Linked DNA regions of Homo sapiens. The protein of the gene in region 3 interacts with the protein of the main gene of each other region in a pairwise test. Each region holds a gene or a part of one and is shown on either strand. Other genes may lie near its edges.

What was found. Proteins that work in one complex are often made in the same cells at the same time.
Region 1: the proteins of ADIPOQ (region 3) and MFF interact in binary tests that used the Homo sapiens proteins (3 or more experiments, as listed by UniProt).
Region 2: the proteins of ADIPOQ (region 3) and CD200R1 interact in binary tests that used the Homo sapiens proteins (3 or more experiments, as listed by UniProt).

What each region holds. Positions count from the first base shown.
Region 1 is NC_000002.12:227,349,246-227,356,277, reverse strand, and holds part of MFF (mitochondrial fission factor), read right to left. Parts: intron 3,765-7,032; coding exon 3,705-3,764; intron 602-3,704; coding exon 517-601; intron 1-516. UniProt on the Homo sapiens protein: Plays a role in mitochondrial and peroxisomal fission. Promotes the recruitment and association of the fission mediator dynamin-related protein 1 (DNM1L) to the mitochondrial surface.
Region 2 is NC_000003.12:112,944,077-112,951,108, reverse strand, and holds part of CD200R1 (cell surface glycoprotein CD200 receptor 1 isoform a precursor), read left to right. Parts: intron 1-3,184; coding exon 3,185-3,253; intron 3,254-7,032. UniProt on the Homo sapiens protein: Inhibitory receptor for the CD200/OX2 cell surface glycoprotein. Limits inflammation by inhibiting the expression of pro-inflammatory molecules including TNF-alpha, interferons, and inducible nitric oxide synthase (iNOS) in response to selected stimuli.
Region 3 is NC_000003.12:186,852,705-186,858,990, reverse strand, and holds the end of ADIPOQ (adiponectin precursor), read right to left. Parts: exon of another isoform or gene 5,941-6,286; 5' UTR 5,933-5,940; coding exon 5,719-5,932; intron 5,214-5,718; exon of another isoform or gene 5,119-5,213; intron 4,859-5,118; exon of another isoform or gene 4,808-4,858; coding exon 4,287-4,807; 3' UTR 528-4,286; downstream 1-527. UniProt on the Homo sapiens protein: Important adipokine involved in the control of fat metabolism and insulin sensitivity, with direct anti-diabetic, anti-atherogenic and anti-inflammatory activities.

The DNA.
Region 1 (7,032 bases), on a different chromosome or scaffold from region 3:
TAGACGCAATGAGAAAACCAACTATGCCTTCTTCACATGTGTGTATGTCTGTGTGATACTCGAGGCTGTGGGAGTACATATTAAAAAATATGCATGTGCAACTGCAGTTCTAAGAAAGGATTTATTACAGAATACAGGAAATACGTATGCAGGGATGCTGTGCAAGCTGCAAGGAGCGGTTTCCAAAATGGAGTTATTAAACACAGTAACAAAGGTTCCAAAGTAATTGTTCCACATTTCAAAAGCCAAACAAGCAACTGATGGCTGTACTGGTTTGCTAAAGATTCTTTGTTACTGGCCAGAATTACATTAATCTATCTTGGTAATACTGTTTTACGGTGATCAAAACATGTAAATGGTAGTTTAATATATCTTTAATCAAAATGAGAAAATCAATGATGGCTTACTAGTTTGATAGTCCCACAGGAGAGAAAATAATAAAATGTTGAGAACTATCACTTTAAAATATTGTATGAATATAACTGAGAAATATATCTTATTTGGTACACTAAATACCTGTCGTCTTAGTGAAGCTGCATCTACAACAGTCAGGTCATCTGACGTTCCTTCAATGGTTGTATCTATATTTGAAATGCCATACCTGCAGATAAGAGATAGAAATACAAATGAATAGTAAAGTAGAACTCAGAGTAAATGGCACGCCACATCATGCTTTGTGTAATGCTCAAAGTAGTATTCAGAAAATTGGTACTTAATAATATGAATTACTAAAATATTTTACTACCTGAATTTGTACTAATAAAGGAAAGAAAAAAGCTTAAAATGACAACTGTCTACAATATTGAAAAAGGGCACTAAAAACTGGAGAATGGGAAAAAAATCCTGACTAAAGAAACACATAGAAAATTCTCAAGCCAGAAGGATTGGCGATGCTAAAAAGGGTCCCTGGCTGAAAAGGTTTGAGAGCTGCCACTTAGGATAGAACAAAATATAATTCTTACACAAACTTATGTCCATATGTAAGCCCATAGGCACAGACTCACTAGCAGGGAACACAAAGTAGACTAACTCTAAAAAAAGAAAGACTCATCACCTCTTCTCACTGCCTCTTGTCTTGCCATTTTTATTCTTTACTTCTTGTCTTTTTATTTTTTTGAGACAGAGTTTCACTTTTGTTGCCCAGGCTGGAGTGCAATGGCACAATCTCGGCTCATTGCAACCTCCACCTCTGGGGTTCAAGTGATTCTCCTACCTCAGCCTCCCAAGTAGCTGGAATTACAGGCACCTGCCACCATGCCCGGCTAATTTTTGTACTTTTAGTAGAGATGGGGTTTCACCATTTTGGCCAGGCTGGTCTCAAAGTCCTGACCTCAGGTGATCCACCCACCTCAGCCTCCTAAATTGCTGGGATTACAGGCCTGAGCAACCACGCCTGGCCTATTCTTTACTTATTTCCAATTACTTATGCTCTACTGTGTTCTCCCGCAGAAACAATTATAAAATCTCCTGAATACATCTTACCACTACATTTAGCTCCAGAATTGGCCCAATAATGAATAAAATGCTGTGTATAAAATAATACTGAAAAACCATTAAGACAAAATCCAGAGAAAGCATATTAAAAAAGTACTTTTTGTTCCAATGTAGTTACTTCTAAAGCGGCACTAATTTCTAGGTGAATGACACTAAACCTCTGAAAAACAAAGACAAACGCCATTCCTCTTCTTTGCCTGGATTTCCACATTTTAAAATTTAGTTTAATTAATAGCTTCATTGAGATACAACTTATATAACCACATAATTCACCTCACATGTATTTTATACCCTAAATGGTTATTTTAGTAAAATGGCATAGTAAATTTTCTAAATGAGCAGAATATAAATAAACTAAATTAAAAGTTATTCCTGTGTAGTCCAGAGAATTGGCAAATGGATCATCTATTCTAATACCTATCCCAGCAAGTCCCCACTACAAAAAGTACATACCCACAAAAAGGGATATGAAGCAGAATTATACTTTTCATCCAGACATGTTAAAGACAAGTCTACTCAGAAAATCCTTTTGTTTTAAATATTGTTAAAAGTAATAAAAATACTTTAATAAAGTATGCAAAAAACCTTAAACAATAGATGGTGTGTACTGACTCTAGATAATCTACAACCATCTCCAAATATTCCTTCTATGGCTAAATTATCCTGCTTTCTCATTAACTGTCTCCTTATTTCATGAGAACACAGTAAACAACCTGGAGCAGTTAGGGTAATTATACCAGTTAGAGAAGTAAACTTCTAAGTTAGTAGATGCTGGAACTATGGGTTTACAAATGATTAGTGGAAAAAATAAAGGTAGAAGATTCCCTTTTCCTTCACTTCATCCTCAAAATAAAACTCTTCTCTTTCTCTGAGGCCACATAACAGAGGAATAATTAGGAAAAAAATCAAACAGAAGCAATTGTTAAAGGGATCTGAACTGAACATACAGAATGAAGTACAAATGAAAGCGATTACTCACAATTTATATCCTGAATTAACTAAGGTTTAGATATCTGAAATCTCGATTTGCAAAGAAATATAAGGATATGACAAAAGATTTTACCTATATACTTCAATTTAAAACAAAAATATGTTACTTTACATTGTGTTTTAAACAAAAACCGTATTTATTAGAACTAAAAAACTCTAATGCTAAGTTAGACCACTGGCTGAAAATACTCTGACAGAAAGATAAAAGATCACAAACTTAGAGAAAAATATAAGGGAAAACGACAATGAACTGAACTAAGATTGTAAAAAGAAACAAGTCAGCAGAGTGGTAAGGGATTACCACAGGCACGCTTTTCAATTCCTCCACCATGAATTCAATTTTAATGAGCAGCTAATGCTTCCCTTTTCTCTTGCTTCAATGAATGCACCAACTTCTAAGCACAGAAACGATGCTGCCAGTTTTAAATCTACTGCTACCGACAATATATTTCTGCTTAAATAAAACTGACTGAAAAAATTATACAGTAATAGCATCTGTGAATACCAACAAGTTTTTGATTTTTTCCAGACTATAGGAAAACTAAATGGGGATTTTGGCACTTAAGAACTGCATGTATTTGTATGTGCCATTCTGCCAGCCTCTGTGCGTGTCAGGAAGAAAGGAACGCTCAACCTACGCGTGTCTGAAAGTGTAAAAAGGGCAAAAATAAGAGAGAAGGCCTTAAATCAACAGATGATAAAAATGCTTAAAACTAAATTTCCTTTCTAAATATGTACCTTCCCAAACTGTGGAGTTGTTAATGCTGATTTCTCCCAATTTAAGATGAAGCCTTACAAACAAAGACAGGTTTGTTCACACACTAAAAGTAACATTCCAGATAATTAACAACTTAAAAGGAAATGCTGGGCACAATTCAGGCAACCATTAAAATGATGTACATAAAATAAGATTTAAGACTTTTTTCTGTTTTAGCATGTAAATTATTATAAACCACCTATAAACTATTAACACTACACTTAAATAAAATAGCTGTTCACATCATACCATAATTATTAAACATTTTCCCTCATACTAATTGGCCAAATGTCATGACTGATTATTCACTGTTCTTAGAGAGAAGCAAGATGTACTCATCGAGGAAAGCTGTAGAAACAAGTTCAGCTACAAACACAGGCATGGCTACGACATGCAACATGCCCTGCAACACACAAATTCCGCCAAGCATTTACCCTGGTAATTACGAAGTCTCAAAATTTACCTGACGTTGTCATGATGAGGATTAGAAGTGGCGGCAGCAGACCCACCACGCAACACAGGTCTAAGGCAGGTTTTTGCGGGAGAAGGCACAAGACAGAATCAGGAAACAGAGAAGTAATAAAATAAAAGCAAAAACAAGACAAATAAATGTCAAATAGGATTATATTGTATATTTCAATACAATATAATATCTCTCAACTACTTTAAAAAATCCTTGTCTCATGTGTCCTCCATTTTATCATTTTCATAAACTCAACATTACTATTGATCAAAGAAACAAAGGGAATCTATATTTACACGACAAAACAGCACCAACATATAAAATAATTTTCTTGGTGCTTTACTTTATGAAATTTAAGACAGAGGACAACTCTGCTTAAAAAGTGTAATTCCTTTCTTCCAGTTGGAAAAAAAAAATCACTAGCACCTTTAAAAGCATATCAGGACCTGGTTAGCTGCACCGGTATGACCACAGTTGCTCATCTGATATCAACAGCTCTATCTCAAAAACCGTATTCATAAATTTCAAGAAACTCCATTTCCCACACTTCCTTCCCTCCCACCTCATTAATTTTGAGTAGTGCCTGATGTCTCGTTGCAGCTGTGTCTCATTCAAACTCTCAGCTCTCCAGAGTGAAAATGCAAGCCTCCACTCTGAAGCTGAGATCAGGAGACGTGCTAGAGCACATTACAGGAAGGGCAATCCACAATTTGAGTCTGATCTTGAGACAGCCAGGAGTGACATACAGGGCTGCTGGAAATGAAGACTAAGGTGCAATGGGAAACTTGGTGGGGATTTCCACTCATTCTCAGTATATACTTTGGCGCTAGAGGACAGTTAGCTTTCTACTTTGATAAGCAGTAACCTTTCCAATACGTTTTATCTTTTAAAATCAGAAAACAAAAGCTTCTAAGTGTTCACTGGTCAATTCCCCCTAAAACAATCAGCAATATTTACTAAGCAGAGAAAGGAGACTGGAGTGTTGGATCCATATAAAGATTTGAAGAATTATTAAATCCTATTTTGGATATCTCATTCTCTAAGTAACTGATCTGGTTTTGCCTGAATTTAAGTATCAAGACAATAATTATATAATGGTAAATGTTTAATACCAAATGCACTAATTTTTTCTGTAAGTTGGCACAGCTGTGGAATTTTGACTACAATACAAATTATTTTCTGATAATTCAATTCATGTAAGAAAATTCTAATGTTTAACTTCTACATGTCTTAAAGGTACTACCAGTGCTTAAAGAAATTTCTGGAGCCTAGATGATAAGGGATTCAGAGACTTTTTGGGGGAACATGTTTGACTTTTATTTTACTGGCTAAAAAACATGGAGAAATCACATATGCTTAAGACAGGTCTTTAACTCATCTCATCCTACTAACATATTTACTCTGTGGCATTAGGAAACCTGTTATTTAACTACAATCTTAAATTGCACTAACATGAAAATGGTTAACTAGATGAAGCCATCACTGTGTGCTTCCTAAAGCTTTTTAAAATGCACACAGTATGTTCAAATGGGTCTGTCATATTCAACCTATTCCACCACAGAGATTTCCCTTTTATAACGCAGAGCCAGAAAATAATACAGTTACCTTTCACAACGTATTTCATTTTGTCTTCTCACACTGGCAATTGACACATATATTGTAAAAGTAAATTAGACAGGTATGTGGCAAAGTTAGAAACTTCATTCAAGTACCATTTTCTACGATAAGTATGATTTAATACATAAAATCTTCTCAACAGTATGTTTTGTAGAGTGGCAAAAGGGAAAGAAATCCAAGGCTACCACCAAGCTCCGCCATTAACTTGCGTACTGACATTTTTTGAGTAAATACACTCTGACGTAACAGAATATGTGTTTCTTTGCTATAAAAATGTAATCTGCTACAGAAAATAAAGTTTAATTGGGGATCAGGAATTATACACTTTTTTAAAGAGAAAAATTATAAATAACAAACGCTGTATCCACTGCAACTCTGGATTTCTAGGTCTTCCAAGCTGTATATTTATAGGGATACTTGCCAAAAATATAAATTATTCATACATTGGTTTCTTATTCTATGCACTCAAAGCTGGTACAATCTGTTAAGGAAAAACTGCATAAAAATAATCAAGCCCCTCGTAAAAATGAGAGCTAAGCATGACTCATCTATCAATATTTAAATAAGGTTCTTACACAGGAACTAAGTTTCTTTTTGAAGATGCGAATATTTTACATTGTAAAATGAGATACATAGCTCTAACAGATACAGGGAGAGACCGGCATTTTCTAACCAGTTAAGGACCAAATCATAATAGTATTTTAATTTCTGCTGCACCTGAGCAAATGACACACCTGGTGCTTTGGTAAATTTTCAGTGTATCAGTTCTCCAAATGCGTAACACTCACCTGTGTAAATAAACTTTTCTAACATGTACCTAGGATTTAACTTGGTTTTCACGTTGAGTTTGGTTTAGATCATCTACATTCTTGTAAGAAAAAAATATATGGTACACAAACCTTTTGACAGCGTCCTTTAAAATGTAAACTGAACACAGTTCTTATGTCAAGGAATTGTGAATCTGCATTACTTCATAGTGATAAAGCAAGCAGAAAGCTTTTTTCTTTTTCTGCCAAATAGTTCTAGTTTAAATTAACTACACCTAATGTGATGGCATATGACCAAAGATAAGGTATTGCATTAGCATAATAGCCAAGAGTAATAAAATAGAAAAGAAAAAATGATCTACAGAGCAAGGAACATAGAAGCACTTAAAATTTTATAAGCAGTATTATTTTATAATCATGCAAGTAGAACATTATCCAAATTTCACATTCCTATTTCTTATATCTGAAAAGTCATGCCAGATACTTCTCACAAAGGAAATAAAAACTGATTTGGCACTTAAAATTCTGATAAAATCTTGCTCAACACTGAGATCCTAAGTGAATACAACTTTAAAAAATCCTTTCAATACTGAAAGCGTCAATAAGACTGATGAGAATCTAACCCTCCAAGCTCCAAGGTAACAACTAATGCTACAGATCTAGGAGAAAAGCATTATTAATATAACTCCTTCATGAACTTTTAAAAACTTACTGAAATGAATGAGAAAAGAGAATTCCTTCCCAGAAAAGGGATTTTAGAGTTATCAATTCATCACAATGTAAAAAAGTGAAATAAAATTTCACTGAAAGTCCAAAAATATTTTTCATTATTAAAAAAATACAAAGTTTATACTAATACGATTTTTGATTTTATACATTTGACTCTGAGGCACAATTTTTTTTCCATTATGGAGGAAAAAATCCATATTTTTATAAGTTCCACA
Region 2 (7,032 bases), about 74 Mb from region 3:
AATGTTGATTATCTTTTTAAAGAACTAGCTTTTGATTTCCTTAATTTTTTGCATTGCTTGTTTCCTCTTTTATTGATTTCTGCTCTTATATTTATTATTGTGTTTTCTCTCTTTTGTTTCTTGCTTCTATGGGTGAATTTTACACATTTCTTCCTTTAAAATTAGCACTTAAAGGTATTACTTTTCCTAAAACCACTGTGTTAGCTGCTTATTTCAAATTTTGGCATGTTGTATTTTCATTATCATCCAGTGAAAACTTTAATTTCTTCATGAATTTCTTCTTTGAGCAAAGGGTTGCTTAGACGTGTGTTTGATTTCTAAATATTTGGTATTTTCTTAAAAATCTCATTGTAATTGATTTCTAATTCAATTCTGTTTTGGTTGGAGGACATCTTTTATATGACTTCAGTTTTTTTTAATGTTTTTGAGACTTGTGGCACAGAATGTGGCCAAACTCAGCGAATATACGATGTGCACTTGCAAAGAATGTATTCTGCAGATGCTGGGTTAGGGTACTAAAAATATGAATTAGGTCAGTGTGGTTGATAACTATATTAGTTGTTTATAACTATGTAATGAATTACCCCACAACTTAGCAGCAGATAAGAAATATGTATTTTGAAAGATAAAAATACATCTTAAGTTGATATTGATACTTTTCATTAAAATTTAGGACTGAGGATTTTTTTTTCCTTTTTTTTTTTTTCTTTGACGGAGTGTCACTCTGTCACCCAGGCTGGAGTGCAGTGGTGTGATCTCAGCTCACTGCAACCTCTGCCTCCCGGGTTCAAGCAATTCTCTGCATCAGCCTCCCAAGTAGCTGGGATTACAGGCATCTGCCACCACATCCGGCTAATTTTTGTATTAAACTTACTTATTTTACATCTATTATCTTCTTTCTTCCTCACTATAAAATTGAACAATACCAACATACAGACATACCTATCTCTCCACAACCTCACCCAACAGTGTATGTTGTCAAACTTTTGGATTTTGCCAGTTATAGATGAGAAATGGTATTTCCAAATACTTTTAATTTGGATTCCTCTTACCATGACTGATGTGAAATATATTTTCATATGACTAAGAGATATTTTTACTTCTTTTTCCATAAAATTTCTGTCCATATGTTTAGTCTGGTTTGCTATAGGTTTGGGTTGATCTTTATTTTTAATCCAGCTTCATCTAGCCACGTGCCAGGGAGCTGTGCAGGCCACTGTTCTAAGCCCATGAATTCTGACAATTGTCTCTTCCCGAACTTAACTATTCCCGTTCAGATCTAGAATTCATAGTGTCTGTGTCCAGATGCCTTTGTAATCCTGATTTTATGGACTTGCCATGCGATCTGCTTTTTTAAAAGTTTGTCTCTCAGTGCTCTTGCAATAACATGGCTTAAACTCACTTCAGTTTGGGTTAATTTGGGTTGTGTATCTATCCTAGCATATTTCTTAGGCTCTAACCATTGATTTCTACTCATAGCAGTAAGACTTACTTGCACTAAGATTCATAATTGGGTAACTGAAGCAGCTTACTAGCCAGGTAGTCTTGGTCAAATTGCTTAATCACTTAATCTACATTTCTTTATCTGTAAAATGAAAATAATCATATCTGCTAGTTATAGAGAGATGGAAATAAAGAACATAGGCAAATTACCCAAAATCTATTCCTGTTATACTCATTCCATAAATTATCTTAAAAGAACAGTTTGCTAAAGAAAATGGCAGCTGAAAGGGGCAGTAGATTAAAACTTTTTCCAGAAAAACACTGAGCATTAAATTTTACTCTAAAAGGTGTCTCTTTGCCAGTCAGATACACTCACTATAGATAAGCTACGAGTGTATCTTTTCCTTGTGAACACATTCCAGGAGCTTTGTGCCTTGCACAGTTAGAGCCTGCCGATATCCAGCCTCAACTCCAATTACACATCCAGGTTTTCTCACTTCATGGCAATACTAAACTATTTATAACTCTTGTAAATTTTTATTTGGCTTTGTACCTCCTTTAAATGCCATTATTTTTGTTTGCATTTTCCCTTCTGTCTTCCTGGAAAACTCCTCATGTACTTAGATCCAGCTAAAAAATTACTTATTATAGGAAAGCATGCCTAATCTCTTACTCCTGTTTTCCTGGAATTTAAACATCTCTTCTTTTAAACTTCTATACATCACAGGCAACTTCGATCATTGCACTGAAAACTTTGCATTATAATTGTTTCCCTAGCTACTGCCTCTCCTGGATCTTAAGCTCTTGGAAAAAAGGGGATATTGTTTATTATGATATCTCTGTGCCTAGCAGAGTACTTTGCCAATAATTGCTGCTTAAAAGATGTGTACTACCAATTCTCACTAAGAGCTTGCCTTGCAGAAATGTGAACTTAATAGGCCATTGTCTATATCACGGGTCCCCAACCCTGGGGCTGCAGACTGGTACCAGTCCTTGGCCTATTAGGGATTGGGCCGCACAGCAGGGGGTGAGCGGCAGGTGAGTGAGAATTGCGGCCTGAGCTCCACCTCTTGTCAGATCAGTTGGAGGCATTAGATGCTCACAGGAGCATGAACCCTATTGTGAACTGTGCATGCCAGGAATCTAGGCTGTGCATTCCTTATGAGAATTGAACTAATGCCTGATGATCTGAGGTGTAACAGTTTCATCCGAGAACTATCGTGCTCCCTTCCTCCTTGTCCGTGGTGGAAAAATTATCTTCCTCGAAATGGGTCCCTGGTGCCAAAAAGGTTGGGGACCGTTTTCCCATCATAGATTCTATGATGTGACTTCAACAATGCTTAGGAAAATCCTTTTATTCCATACCAGCAGCCAATCAATAGTCCCCACTAAACTTTTTTTACCTCCTCATTGGTGCTTGAAAAGCCTAGTAAAATAATTTCTTCCACACTCAGAGATAGACTAAAAGCCTGGAAGAAGACTTGAATATAAAGCAAGAGGGGGGTGATGGGCACTCTGGGCTTAAAGCAGGACTATGCCAGAGTCAGGAAGAGAAAGTCAAAAGTTTATACTGGGACAAATTTTGCCAAGACTTTTGCTTGGCTGTCATAATTTAGATATTCATTGGCAACTGCAATACAAAAATAGTCTGAAGAATGTGAAAAAATATGATTTTAACTAGGAGTCAGATCTATTAATGCATATTTCTCTCTCTACCCCCTATGTCTTTTTCAAAATTCAGAAGCGGAGGGTGCTGCTCAACCAAACAACTCATTAATGCTGCAAACTAGCAAGGAGAATCATGCTTTAGGTAATGTGCATCTTTTAACAATAATTCTAGTAGGGGAGTGCTTGATGTCCATATAGGTTTTACATTTTTGGATCTTGAATTGTCTCATGCATTATCTGTATTATCTAAATGATATTATATTTAAGAGTGTTAATAAATTTTTCATTCTGAAATTATTTCTATGCTTATTTAGTACCTATTTTAAGAATGGGATCACTAAACAAAACCAATGGCCTATTCAAAAAATTTGTTATTCAACTTTTGAAACCTAGATTATTATCCCAGAGCACTTTTTAATAAGCAGATCTTAATAGGTGTTAATGATTTATTTTCTATATCCTCTCTCAACCCTATTTTCTCCAAAATTTTTGTTTGCCATTTTAATTAACATTGAAACAGAAAAGAAAAGTTAACAGACTTTATTTTTTTAGAGAAGTTTTAGGATCGTAGCACAATTGAGTGGAAAGTACAGAAATTTCCCCTATGACCTCTGCCCCCACATGTGCAAAGCCTCCCCATTATCAACATACCTGACTAGAGTGGTACATTTGTTTCAATTAATGAACCTACATTGAAACATCATCATTATCACATTATCAAAGTCCAAAGTTTGCATTAGAGGTCACTTTTAGGGTTGAATATGAATGTTTTCAGGCAAATGCATAATGACATGTCTCCACCATGATAATATTTTATAGAGTAATTTCACTGACCTAAAAATCGTCTCTATTCTACCTATTCATCCTTCCCTGCCCACTAACCCCAGGCAATCCTGGTATACTGTCTCCATAGTTTTGTCTTTTCCAGAGTGTCATATAATTGGAACGTTACAGTATGCAGCATTTTCAGACTGGCTTTTTTCACTTAATAATATGCATTTAAGTGTTCCCCCATGACTTTCCATGTCTTAATGGCTCTTTTTTTTTAGTACTGAATAATATTCCATTGTTTGACTATACCACAGTTTATTCATTTGCCTGGTAAAAGACATCTTGGCTGCTTCCAAGTTTTGGCAATTAGGAAAAAAGCTGCAATTAACACCCATGCACGGGTTTTTGTATGGATGTAAGTTTTCAACTCTTAGGGTAAATACCAAAAAGCATGATTGTTGGATTGCATGGTAGGAGATTGCTTAGTTTTGTAAGAAACTGCCAAACTGTCTTTCAAAGTAGATGTACCACTTTGCATTCCTGCTACCAATTAAGTTCCTGTTGCTCCACTCCTCGCCTTTGGTGTGTAGTGGTTCTCATTGTTGTTTTAATTTGCCTTTCTTTGATGACATATGATGTAGAGCATCTTTTCATATGCTTATTTTCCATAAATATGTACATTTTCCATATATATCTTCTTTGGTAAAGTGCCTGTTAAGATTTTTGACCTGTTTTTTAATCTGGTTGTTTGCTTGCATATTGCTGAGTTTTAAGGTTCCTTTGTGTGTTTTGGATAACAGTCTTTTATCGGATATGTCTTTTGAAAATACAGTTGGCCCTCTGTATCCATGGGTTTCAAATCTGTGGATCCAACCAACCATGGATTGGAAATATTTGGAAAAAATTCCACAAAGTTCCAAAAAGCAAAACTTGAATTTGCCTTACTACATTGAGTCCACAGGATGTAGTGATATACAGGCATTGTATTAGGTATTATAAGTAATCTAGAGACGATTTAAAAAATACAGGTGGTTATATGCAAATACTAAGCCATTTTATACAAGGGATATGAGCATCTGTGGATTTTGGTATCCATGGGGTGATGGAATCCCTCAGAGGCAACAAGGGATGACTGTATTTTTTTTTTAGTATGTGGCTTATCTTTTCGTTCTCCTTTTTTTTTTTTTTTTTTTTGAGACGGAGTCTCGCTTTGTCGCCCAGGCTGGAGTGCAGTGGCGCGATCTTGGCTCACTGCAAGCTCCGCCTCCCGGGTTCACGCCATTCTTCTGCCTCAGCCTCCGGAGTAGAGTAGCTGGGACTACAGGCGCCAGCTACCACGCCCTGCTAATTTTTGTATTTTTAGTAGAGACGGGGTTTCACCGTGTTAGCCAAGATGGTCTCGATTTCCTGACCTCGTGATCCGCCCGCCTCGGCCTTCCAAAGTGCTGTGATTACAGGCGTGAGCCACTGCTCTTAGAAATTTTTCACAGAGTAGAAATTTTTAATTTTACTGAAGTCCAGTTTATAGATTCTTTATTTTATGGATTGTGCCTTTACTGTGGTAGCTAAAATGTCACTGCCAAACCAAAGATCATTTGGACTTTCTCTTATGTTACCTTCTAGGAGTGTTTTTAGTTTTGCATTTTTATATTTAGGACACTGATCCATTTTGAGTTTATTTTTGTGAAAGGTGTGAGGTCTGTATCTAGATTTAATTTATTTTTGCATCTGGATGTCCAGTCGTTCCAACACCATTTGTTCAAAAGACTCCAATGTATTGCCTTTGCTAATTTCCAAATACAATATTTATGTGAGCCTATTTCTGGGCTCTCTATTTGGTTTCATTTACTTATTTAGCTCTTCTTTTGCTAATAAAATACTGACTTGATTATTGTAGCTTTATAGTAAATCTTGAAGTCGAATAGTGTCAGGCCTCAAACTTTGTTCTTCTTCAATAATGTGTTGACTATTCTGAGTCTTTTGCCTCTCTAGATAAACTTAAAAATCAGTTTGTTTATGTCCATAAAATAACTTGCTGAGATTTTGGTTGGGATTGTGTTGAATACATAGATCAAGTTGGGAAAAACTGGGACTTTGGTAATATTCATTCACCCTATCTGTGAACATGAGGTCTCACTCCATTTACTTAGATTTTCTTTGATTCTTTTCCATCAGAGTTTTATAGTTTTCCTCATATAGATGTTGCACATATTTTGTTAGACTTATACCTAAGTATTTCATTTTTGGGGATGCTAATATAAATGGTATTGTGTTTTTAACTTCAAATTCCACTTGTTCACTGGTGACTTATTGGAAATTGTCATACAAACATTGACTTTTGTATGTTAACCTTGAATTAATATCTTCCATCACATCAATGAGTCAATACAATACAAAAAATTGACTTTTGTATGTTAACCTTGTATTTTGCAACCTTGCTGCAATTTCTTATTAGTTCTAGGAGTTTTTTTGGTCAATTCTTTCAGATGCTTTACATAGATAATTATGTCATGTATGAACAAAGACAGTTTTATTTCTTCGTTACTGATCTTGATCCCTTTTATTTATTTTTTCTTGTCTTATTGCATTAGTTAGAAATTCCAGTGGTGAATTAGTTAGAAAAGCATTAGTTAGAAAAGCAGTGGTGAAAAGAGTCATCTTGCTTTGCTCCTGATGCTTTGCTTTCTCACCATTAATTATGATGCTAGCTGTAGAGTTTTTTGTAGATGTTTTTTAAGTTGAGAAATTTCTCTTTATCCCAGTTTACTGAGAGTTTTTAAAAAATCATAAATGAATGTTAAATTTTGTCAAATGCTTTTTATGTATCTATGGAAATGATCATATTATTTAGCTTATTGATGTGATGGAAGATATTAATTCATTTTTGAATTTTGAGCCAGGCTTGCATATCTGGAATAAACCCCAGTTGTTCATGGAATATAATTCTTTTACTACATTCTTGAATTTGATTTACTAATATTTTACTGAGGATTTAAAAATGTATGTTTATGAGAGATATTGGTCTGTGGTTTTCTTTTTTGTAATGTTTTTGTCTGGTTTGGTTATTAGGATAATGCTAACCTGATAGAATGAGTTAGGAAGCATTCCCTCTGCTTCTGTTTCTGAAAGAGATTAAGGAGAGCTGGTATG
Region 3 (6,286 bases):
GAGAATTCATCATCAACAGACTTGCTTTAAAATAAATGCTCAATAAAGTTTTTCAGGTTGAGGAGAAATTACACCAGAGAGAAACACAGAACATTAGAAATTAATAAAGAACAAAGGAAATGATGAATATCTGAATATGTATTTTTCTCCTCTTAAATTCTTTAAAATATATATATGACTGACGAATGCAAAAATCATAACATTGCCTATAATGTTTCAGTGTATATAGATGTAATATATATGACAACTACAACATAAAAGAAAGTGGATAGAGGTACTAATATGATTATAAGCCTTCTACGGTTTACTGCAAGTGGCAAAATATTAACTTTATGCACACTGTGAAAAGTTAAGTACATTGTAATCCCTCAAGCAACCACTAAAAAATACCACAAAGAGATATAGGCAAATACCCAATAAATAAATTAAGATAAAATATTATGAAATATTTAAACAATCCAAAAGAATTCTGGAAAGAGAATAAAACAGAAGTGGTGAACAGCAAACAAATAAAACAGTCATCCATCTTAAATTCAACAATTTTATTAAATATAAATTGTCTAAACACCAATTAAAAGACAGATATTTTTAGACTGGATAAAAATTATACCCAACTACATGCAGTCTGTAAGAAACACATTTTAAATACAATAATATAGATATATTTAAAGTAACATGATGGAAAAAGATATACCACAAAAACACTAATCAAAAGAAAGTTGACCAGGTGTGATGGCTCATGCCTGTAATCCCAGCACTTTGGGAGGCCGAGGCGGGTGGATCACAAAGTCAGGAGTTTGAAACCAACCTGACGAATGTGGTGAAACCCCGTCTCTACGAAAAATACAAAAATTAGCTGGGCGCAGTGGCATGAGCCTGTAGTTCCAGCTACTTGGGAGGCTGAGGCAGGAGAATTGCTCATGGTAGAGGTAGCAGTGAGCCAAGATCACACCACTGAACTCCAGCCAGGGCCACAGAACGAGAGTCTGTCAAAAAAAGAGAGAGAGAGAGAGAGAGAAAGAAAAGGAGGAAGGAAGGAAGGAAAGAGAGAGAGAGAGAAAGAAAGGAAGGAAGAAAGAAAGGAAGGAAGAAAGAAAAGGAAGTTGAGTGCGTATGTTATTTTTAGACAAAGTAGACTTCAGAACACAGAAAATTATCACAGATAAAGAAGGACATTACATAATGATAAGAGAGTAAATGCACCAATAAGACATAATACTAAACATGTATATATCTAATAATAGAGCGCTAAAATATATGAAGCAAAAGCTGACAGAACTAAAGAGAATTGGACAAATCCACAATTGTACTTCAAAGCATCACAGGACCATTAATCCTGAAATCTTGACCTCAGTTTCTCTCAGGCCTCTTTTGGCCTCAGTTGACTCTCTCTGTGCCTCTGGTTCCACAAAGGAATAACCCTGCCCCAGAGAGTTTAGGGTAACTGTGAAAGCGTGTTCTGTAAGGAGCCCACCCCAACCAGATGTGAGACTGTGAGCATAGCCAGACTTTAGCTACTTGTTGAAATTTTAGAGAAAATCAATAGGAATTTTCCAGCTATGTCTCTCTGGGAAACTCATGAAAGCTCAAACACAGCATTAAGAGTTTGTTGTGGACAGGTATTATTTTGCATCTATCATCCACTCTCCTATTTCTGATAACAGTGTCCCAATTTTGCTTTAGGGAAAATACCTCTACATACCCCTAACTTAAGCTGCAATTAAGTCAATATGAATATTTCATCCTCCTGACTCAGTGATTGGTCAGAAACAGGCACACAACTCAGCCAGAGCAATGAGATGCAAGGTTACACTTGCTGGGGCATCTGGGAAAGAGAGCTTCCTCTCTCCTCTTTGGGCATCACCAGAAAACATGATGTCCATTTAGCCAGATGGTGTGGCTTGGGGATACGAGAGCTGGGCAGGCCACAGTCTTTTTGATATCGGGAGGGAAACCCTAGAACTATACTGTGTAGCACCTGAGGGTAAAGCCTACACTGCGGAAGGCAGAACAGAAGGACATACAGAAAAGGGTCTTGATTGTTTTGAGCTTTGGTTCAAACCTTATCTAAAGACAGAACAACTCTGGTAATTTCTATTATGCAAAGGAATAAATGTTTCCATTTTTCCTTTATTTTTCTTGCTTACAGTAGTTTGCATAATATTTTGGGTTTTCTGTTGTGAATGACATTCACAACACAGAGTTCTGACTAACACAAGGCTTACTCTCACCTCTTCATCCCTCTCTAAACCTCATATCTATCTTTCTCAAAAAATAACAACAAAAATGGAGGCGGGCAGATCACAAGGTCAGGAGTTCGAGACCAGCCTGGCCAATATGGTGAAACCCTGTCTTTACTAAAAATACAAAAATTAGCCTGGCATGGTGGTAGGCACCTGTGGTCCCAGCTACTCGGGAGGCTGAGGCAGAAGAATCGCTTGAACCTGGGAGGCAAAGGTTGCAGTAAGCCGAGATCATGCCACTGCACTCTAGCCTGGCAACAGAGGGAAACTCCATCTTAAAAACAACAACAACAACAAAAAGACAAAGCTTTATATGTGGAAAAAATAATACCTTAATGATTAGCAATACACATATAAGAGAGAATTGTTCAGAATTTAAAACTGTAAGCAAAAAGATAGTTTTTTAAATTTATATATTGATAGAGAATGCTATTTACTCTGTTTTTGCTAAAATCTTTGAAGAACATCACTGGAGTTATTGTCTCCTGAGAGAATGTTTACCACCATCAACTACCTCAACCTGTAATTCTTAAAGAACAATAATAAATTCAGGAGGCCCAGTCTTCCCTGACCCTGTTGGTACTCAAGGAGACAATGGCTTCAGAATTCCTCCATGGGTTTTGCATTTCAGGCTCAAGCTACCTTCTTGATGAAAAATTCTGGACGTGTTCTGAAAATCACAGTCATCCCTAACTTCAGTGGAAAAGATTCATATTGTCCAGCTGAACAAGGATTGATACTTAAAACCAGGGATTTCCTAAAATGAAAATGTTTCTGTGGATAAAACTGATTACATGCAGAGACTGGAATGGAGTTAATTCTGGGTAGATATGGGATTCAAGAGATTGGTCTTCATGAGGCATTTATCAAGGATCTGCAAGGGATTTAGAGGTGACGGAAGCACAGTCCTTCCTGGGCAGTTGCCTCTAGCCTGGTGGGAGGTGTTCCTCACACCCAGGACTCTCATCCATGGCAAAATAAAAAGTGAGATATCGACTGGGCATGGTGGCTCATGCCTGTAATCCCAGCACTTTGGGAGGTCGAGGCGGGTGGATCACCTAGGCCAGGAGTTCGAGACCAGCCTGGCCAACATGACGAAACCCCATTTCTACTAAAAATACAAAAATTAGCCATGTGTGGTGGAATGCACCTGAAGTCTCAGCTACTCGGGAGGCTGAGGCACAATAATTGCTTGGACCCAGGAGAAGGAGGCTGCAGTGAGCCGAGGTCGTGTCACTGTACTCCAGCCTGGGTGACAGAGTGAGACTCCATCTCAAAAAAAAAAAAAGTGGATATCACATCAGAGAAGCTCCTGGCCAGGTGGCCTTGAGGAACAGGGATGAGTTCGGCACTTAGAGATGGAGTTGGCTTTCCCCGTTGGAGGGAAAGGCATGAGAAGGGACATAGGTAAGAGGAAGTAGAGTAGTGCAGGGGCCATTGAGTAGTAGTCCTTCCAAGACAGGACGTCATCATAGAACCACTTTCTCTGAGGAAGCTCTGCTTGGGGGAGGTTTTAATTCATGAGGAAGGCAAATTCAATGGCTCTCAGGTGAGGTGGGAAACAGACACCTACCAACACTCCAAAGAGAACATGTACCTCTATAAAAGGGCACAGTCTAGTGAACAAAGTCCACAGCTCTGGGTTTGATTTCTAGCACTGTCACTTAATACTGTGTGACCTTAGACATTCACTTAACTCTCTCAGCCTCAGGATACAATCTGTAAAAACAGGAGAATGCTTGTTCCCTGTGCCTTATAGGATTGATATGAGCATCAGGAGAGACAGTGGGCACAAAATAGCACTGTCAACTACTTCTTTCTAGTCAGTTATCTGGTCATGTTTGTGAAGCTCCCCAGGACTGGGAACATAGCATATGATTTTTTTAAAGTTACTCGATGAATGAATGAATAAATGAATGAGTAAATGAATGAATAATATCTAAAGGCCTCCAACTAAATAATAATCAACTTCCTAACCGTACTGAAAGCCTTTAATTGACTTTGGGGCTGTTTGGCCTGGAGGAGGCTCTGAGTTAGTGGTGATCAGTTGGTGTCATGGTAGAGAAGAAAGCCTGTGAAGGTGGAGTCATTGTCATTATCAGCATAGAGTCCATTACGCTCTCCTTCCCCATACACCTGGAGCCAGACTTGGTCGCCCACCTCCAGATGCAGGAGCACAGAGCCGGAGGCCTGGTCCACATTATTTTCCTGGTACTGATCATAGGTGAAGAGCATAGCCTTGTCCTTCTTGAAGAGGCTGACCTTCACATCCTTCATATAGACTGTGATGTGGTAGGCAAAGTAGTACAGCCCAGGAATGTTGCAGTGGAATTTACCAGTGGAGCCATCATAGTGGTTTTGCTGATTGTAGAAGATCTTGGTAAAGCGAATGGGCATGTTGGGGATAGTAACGTAAGTCTCCAATCCCACACTGAATGCTGAGCGGTATACATAGGCACCTTCTCCAGGTTCTCCTTTCCTGCCTTGGATTCCCGGAAAGCCTCGGGGACCTTCAGCCCCGGGTACTCCGGTTTCACCGATGTCTCCCTTAGGACCAATAAGACCTAAGGAATGAGAAGACCTCAGTGACTACAAAGAACAGAACTCCTGCCTAGGTTGGTTACAGCCTAAATTACCATCCCTGTGGCTCCCACTCACAACCTTCTTGACTTATAGATCAAGAAACCAATAAGAGCTCCCAAAAGGAGAGAGGTGTTACCTCCTCCTTCTATATCTCCCACAGACATGGAGGCTCCCATAATTTCAACTCTATCTTTATCTCCTATAGGTCTCTATCATAGACCCTCCACCCTGCCAGCCCTTTATGTGCTGGCACCATCAACCCTGGTTTTGCAATTCTACCCCCTCCATCTAGGATGTCTCTCCTCCTCTATTCTGCCTACCCATCATTCAAGGCCTAGCTGAAGCTCTGCCTCCTCCTTGAAGCCTTCATTCTTCATCAGGTCCACGGTGAGTATATTTTCTCTATGCTCCATACTTTGAATACTTGTTCACATTCAGTTTGACATTTTTAGAGTAGACTTTCTTGTAGTAACCACCAACAGAGCCTTGCACATTAGACATCTTACCTAGATCAAGAGTTCCCCAAAGGCAGGACTGAGCCTTTCAGGGGGTGTGCAGTAAATGTGGTTGAATGCCACTGGGTGAAATGGAAGTTAAGCAGACAGAAAGAGGAATCAGAATATGAATGTACTGGGAATAGGGATGAGGGTGAAGATGGGAAAGGGGATGGAAAAGGAGCTGCAGATGCAGCAAAGCCAAAGTCTTGGTTATAGAGGCACCATCTACACTCATCCTTGGAAGACCAACCCCAAATCACTTCAGGTTGCTTATGGTTAACATAAAAAAGCTTTGCTTTCTCCCTGTGTCTAGGCCTTAGTTAATAATGAATGCCTTCATATAGTTTATATCAGTGTAGGAGGTCTGTGATGAAAGAGGCCAGAAACATTCTTACCTGGATCTCCTTTCTCACCCTTCTCACCAGGGGTGCCATCTCTGCCATCACGGCCTGGGGCCCCATTATGGCCCGGATGCCCTGGGATGCCCGCCATCCAACCTGTGCAGGCCCCCTTGGGCAGGGGAAGCAGGACTCCGGGCCCTTGAGTCGTGGTTTCCTGGTCATGACCGGGCAGAGCTAATAGCAGTAGAACAGCTCCCAGCAACAGCATCCTGAGCCCTGGAATCCACATGTGCACTGTCAGCCATGGAGAGACAGACCCCACACACACACCCAGTTGGGACCTACAAAGGACTCCGTCCATCTCAGCAGAGTCTACTTCTAGGAGCTGCTTTCTAAGTATTCAACTTTTCCAGGAAGACTTTTCTGAATATTGCAGCCCACCTTGATCTCTTTCTGCCCTGAAATCTGTAATACTTAGCATTATTCCCTGTGTGTAGTCTCCTTTCCTCACCAAGATTATGAATTCAGTGATTGCACAGATGACACTCCTCTAATTTTCCCATGTCTGAGCACAGGACCAAGCACAGGGAAAGCTCCAAGAGTCGACTTGCCAAGAATCCAT